Linked DNA regions of Homo sapiens: region 2 is linked to region 1. The links come from fine-mapping of genetic effects on gene expression. Tissue or cell type: caudate. Region 1 holds a variant in brackets; the other region holds the start of a gene. All regions are shown on one strand. Distances are between the middles of the regions.

What was found. PIP is the estimated chance that this variant, and not a neighbour inherited with it, causes the effect. A credible set is the group of variants that fine-mapping cannot tell apart.
Region 2: CFAP74 starts here. The variant in region 1 is the best candidate, but not a certain one, in a credible set for the expression of CFAP74 in caudate (GTEx, PIP 0.59).

What each region holds. Positions count from the first base shown.
Region 1 is chr1:1,940,698-1,943,367 of GRCh38, forward strand. It overlaps CFAP74 (cilia and flagella associated protein 74), which reads right to left. Exons shown (of 39, transcript NM_001304360.2): 22 at 1,331-1,459. Among named protein-coding and RNA genes, the nearest start is that of TMEM52, 23 kb to the left of the region's middle. The variant G/A (reference allele first, on the strand shown) is at 1,489.
Region 2 is chr1:2,002,212-2,004,881 of GRCh38, forward strand. It overlaps CFAP74 (cilia and flagella associated protein 74), which reads right to left and starts at 1,575. Exons shown (of 39, transcript NM_001304360.2): 1 at 1,490-1,575. RefSeq lists a silencer at 1,439-1,733.

The DNA of each region.
Region 1 (2,670 bases):
CATGTTTCAAATTAATATGGAGTTTGCATCGTAAAGGAATCCTAAAAAGCCCTTTAAAAATGCATTTTCACTTTAATCAGAGCTTGATCTCTGATTACATAAGTTAACGTTGTTAAAGAACTATCAGGAAAAGGGCCGGGCACGGTGGCTCACGCCTGTAATCCCAGCACTTTGGGAGGCTGAGGCGCGCGGATCACGAGGTCAGGAGATGGAGACCATCCTGCCTAACACGGTGAAACCCCATCTCTACTAAAAAATACAAAAAATTAGCCGGGCGTGGTGGCGGGCGCCTGTAGTCCCAGCTACTCGGGAGGCTGAGGCAGGAGAATGGCGTGAACCCGGGAGGCAGAGCTTGCAGTGAGCCGAGATAGTGCCACTGCACTCCAGCCTGGGCGACAGAGCGAGACTCTGTCTCAAAAAAGAAAGAAAGAAAGAAAGAAATATCAGGAGAAGTAAAATAAGAAAGAAAAACATCAGCCTCCCTGTGACAGGCGGCCGGCGGGGGCAAGTCCAGGAAGCAGCCGATTTTAAGCTCAGCTCCGCCCTGTTCCCCTCCTAGTCCCACCAGGCCCGTGCCTGCTGCGCCCACCTCCCCCACCAAGCTCCACTGAGCATCATTTGTCTGGACCTTGGTCCCGGCCCGGATGCTGAGGGCAGCTCTGGGGGGCTGGGATCGGACACAGGACGTCCAGTCTCCAAAGCACAACAAATGTTCAAGCGCAGAAATCAAAGTTCACCTGGCAAAAGCAGAGACCAGGGGATGCAGCCAGCAGGCCTGGGAAGAGCCTTGGATTAGACGAGGGACAGCTGGGTGACAGGGACACCCTCAAGACACAGGTAAAGGAGCAAATGTCAGGTGTGCACTGAGCTTGAAACAGAACCCCAGGGAGTTACTGGGAAAGGGATGAAGACAGGGAAGACAGCGGGGGAGTGCACGGACCGCAGGGTACCCGTAGCAAGCCAGAGCCTTATCCTGGGCCACCTTATCCCGGCAGGTAGCAGACCCTCAGTGGCCATGAGAGCCACCGGCCATGCATGGGAGACACGCAGCCTCCCAGTCTTTTCAACAACGAGGCTGGAATAATTGGAAACCTCTGTACAAAAAAATGAACTTCAACTCGGCTCACATCTTAAACAAAAGCAACCAAAACGGACCACAGACCCAGCTGTGACTGCCCCCCAGCGTCATGGCCTCTGCCCCAGAACACATCCCTGGAGGCTGATGATCCCGGCAGCAATGAGAACAGAGGAGTGGCCAGTGGCGAGGAGCGCCTCGGAGCCCACAACCTCCCACGTCCTCCTGTCCCGGCCTTGGCGTCCTGGCACCTACCGCGGCAGGAACTTGAGCTGCACGGAGTAGGACGACTGTGCCTGGATATAGCCTGTCTTGGGCAGGAGCTCCAGGTGGGCCCTCAGCTCCTTGCACACCTCGAACTTCAGGCGCAGGGCAGCTTTCGACCTGTGGGCGTGTCGCAGGGCACTGGGTCA[G/A]GTGCCACAGTCGTGATTCTGTGTGCGCTCAATGCCTGGAGTTATTAAAACATTTCTGGCACCCAAGCCCCCGAGAGGTGCTCAGAGCCCACCCACTCCAAGCCATGCACGTGCACCTCGACAATCGGAGTCCTCAAAGCCCTGCTTTGTAAGGGCTGTTTTTTCTGAAATGAAATCTGATGAAGAATTCTTAAAAATAACCACATCGAAACGGAAGCACGGTCCTAATGGGCTCTCGGGAACCAGATGCTTTCCGGGAAGAGCACCTGCCAGGCAGCCCCTGGGTGCGGGGCCCTGGAGGGGACATGAGGGGTGGAACCCCTCCCTCCAGGGCTCTGCCCGCCTCCTGCCCAGGGCATCCCCACATCCTGCAGCTCAAGCACAGGGCACGTGGGGGGCCTGGGACGGCCACAGGCCTCGGTTATGACAGCAGCCTCCAACCCAAGACGAGCCTGAGAGAGCCAAGGTACCCGCCAGTCACCTGGGAGGCCATGCGTCTGTCCGGTCCCTACCTCCGGCTCCCTTAAGCCAACGGCCTCCTCAGGACCACCTGGAGCCTCCCTGTTCCCACAGTGAAGCCTCCCTCCCCTCCCCCGTCTTGGAGCCTCTGCTAAACAGTGTTGTGGCCGCCCCGCCACAGCTGCCCCGGGCAATCCACGAGGGGGGACCCAGAGGGTGTGGCAGTGAGAAATCTCCTCCCTCCTGTGCTTCCATGCGACAGTCACCCATGCTGTGGCAGCCTCATCTCCGTCCATCACAGACCTGCCTCTGACCTCTGACCACTACCCAGAGGCCACCCACAGTGCGTCTGGGCACGCCAGCCTCTGCACCCCTACTGCTGGGCCCCATGGGAGGCGGGCGCCCGGGTGCTCAGAGACCGCGCCCTCCCCGTCAGGCAGACGCTGCTCTGCCTTCCGGTTCCCTTATGGGGCCAGAGTCTATACAAATGAGCACACAGCTACACTGAGGTACACACAACCACAGCCGGAGACCATCCACAGAGCTGGGCCCCACTCAGCCCTCAATGCCCGACAGACACGCCTGGGCCCTTTCTGTCAAGTTTCCAAGGCCACTGAGAGGCTGTAGTAGGACGATGCCGGAGGCGAGCAGACTCCACCGCAGACACGCCAACACACGCAGCTGGCTCCCGGGTCACCGCAGGCTGCACATTCCCGGCCCATG
Region 2 (2,670 bases), 62 kb after region 1:
TTTTGTGCTGAGCTTGCAACTTTTATACAAGTTTGGGATTGTTTCAAAAAATGTTAAAGAATGTATGTGGTATTACATAAAGTTTATATATATTATTAAACTTATATAAACCTTATATAATACCACACATATTCTTTAAAATTTTATATAAATAAATTTATATAAAATTTAAAATAAATGAAAGTTGGCTGGGTGTGGTGGCTCACCGCCTGTAATTCCAGCACTTTGGGAGGCGGAGGTGGGTGGATCATTTGAGATCAGGAGTTCAAGACCATCCTGGCCAACACGCGGAAACCCCGTCTATACTAAAAATACAAAAATTAGCCAGGCATGCTATAATCCCAGCTACTTGGGAGGCTGAGGCAGGAGAATCGCTTGAACCCAGGAGGTGGAGGTTGCAGTGAGCCGAGATCGCCCTGCTGCATTCCAACCTGGGCAACACAGTGAGACTCTGTCTCAAAAAAACAAAAATTTAAAGAATATATGTAGTATTATATGAAGTTTAATATATATTATTAAACTTACATAAAACTATATGTGGCATTATATATAGTCTATATATTTATATTATATATTGTTTATATAACACCACATATATTCTTTAAAATTTTATATAAAGTTTATATAAAGTTTAAAATAAGTGAAAGTTAACTATATTGTTTAGGGACACATGCATAGGTAGTAAAACTAAAGAAATTTATATATCATCTTTAAAATTTTATATAAATATAAAGTTTATATAAAGTTTAAAATAAGTGAAAGTTAACTATATTGTTTAGGGACGCATGCATAGGTAGTAAAACTAAAGAAAAAGTCAGCCATGGTCAAGAAGAGCGGGTCTGTGAGTGGCATGGGGGAGAGACTTTGGGGTGCTGATGAGGTTCTATTTCTTAACTTGGGTAGTGGCTACTGATGTTCGATTTATAACCAATCTCTAAGTCGCACATGCGCATTTATGCACCATCGTTATGCAGAGAATATCAGTCCATTTCTTTTCAACTGTGGGCCCTACAGCAGGCCTGCTTACTACCTCAGTACCTGGCTTATGCAGATAAAAGGAGTATTCCTTTAAGAAAAACAAAATACTAGAGGCAAATCAGCTTCCAAAACTAGGTTATACATACTAAAACTAAATGACTTTGGGGCTATGGACCATGCTCTCCTTTTTAGCTAGGCAGACACTCACGAGTCTTAACTGTTCACCAGACAGGCTGGCCCTTGATTTTTGTTTAATGTTTTTGTAAATGTGTTATAATAATACTTTATTATAACATCTGCTGCAAAGTCAGGGGCGGGTCCCTCAACAGAGGCTGTGCCAGCGCCGGGGTTCCCTGAAACGAACCAGGGACTAGAACTATTAACAAAGTCATTTTTCTGGCACAGCTTTCCGGGAAAGGCGTTTCATATGGGACGGAGTTCTGCCTGGGGGGCGGGGGTCAAACCCTTCCAGCTCAGCCCCAGGGTCAAACGCATCCGCCCCCACACCCACCTCTGGCTGGCCTGGGTCCCAGGTTCTCGGGCTCCGGAGGCACAGACACCCCGGGCTGCTCAGGCAGGCGGCGGTCCTTGGCGATTGCCCTCCGCGGCGCCGGCGGCGTGGTTTGGGGCGGGCAGCTCCATGGCAACGGAAGACTCCATCGTGGCCGGAGGGGGAGCCTCGCCCGTTCTGCTCCCCGGCTGGAGCGGGTGGTTTGGTCCGACCCACCACCGACCGCGCGGGCCGGGGCCGGGGCAAGGAGGTCGCGGGCCCCGAGGCGCGGCTGAAGGGCCAGGCCACAGGCCGCGGGGCGGGGACGTCTCCGGGGTCCCAGACAGCCAGGCCTGGCCCAGGGCCAAGGCTTGGAGGTGACAGACAGACTTGGGGGGCCTGGAGGAGCTCAGCACCGGCGCGTTGGCCCAGAGGACCGGGGCGGGTGCATGATGGTTTGGAGTCGTTTGTCAACCTAAAAAACTAGGAGGTTTCCCGTGAAAATGGGGATTTTCCTCTTCTCTTGCAAATGGAAGATCGGGCTGGGCGCGGTGGCTCACACCTGTCATCCCAACAATTTAGGAGGCCGAGGTGGACGGATCACTTGAGGTCAGGAGTTCGAGACCAGCTTCGCCAACATGGTGAAACCCCGTCTCTTCTAAATATACAAAAATTAGCAGGGCATGGTGGCAGCTGCCTGTAATCCCAGCTACTCAGGAGGCTGAGGCAGGAGAATCGCTTGAATCCAGGAGGAGGAGGTTGCAGTGAGCCAAGATCGTACCACTGCACTCCAGCCTGGATGACAGAGTGAGACTCCGGCTCAAAAAAAAAAAAAAAAAAAAAAAGACTTCTGAATGTTATGTTCCAGCAAAGGCTCCAACTGAAAAATTGTAAAAGTAAATAGCAAAGTCAGTGAGCTATGATGGTGCCATCACACTCTGGCCTGAGCGAAATCAAGACCCTGTTTCAAAATTAAAAACAGCAAAAACCCGGTTGGGCACAGTGGCTCATGCCTGTAATCCCAGCACTTTGGGAGGCTGAGTTGGGCAGATCACTTGAGGTCAGGAGTTCGAGACTATCCTGGTCAACATGGTGAAACCCTGTCTCTACTAAAAATACAAAAATTAGCCGGGTGTGGTGGCGCACACCTGCAGTCCCAGCTACCCCAGAGGCTGAGGCAGGAGAATCGTTTGAACCCGGGA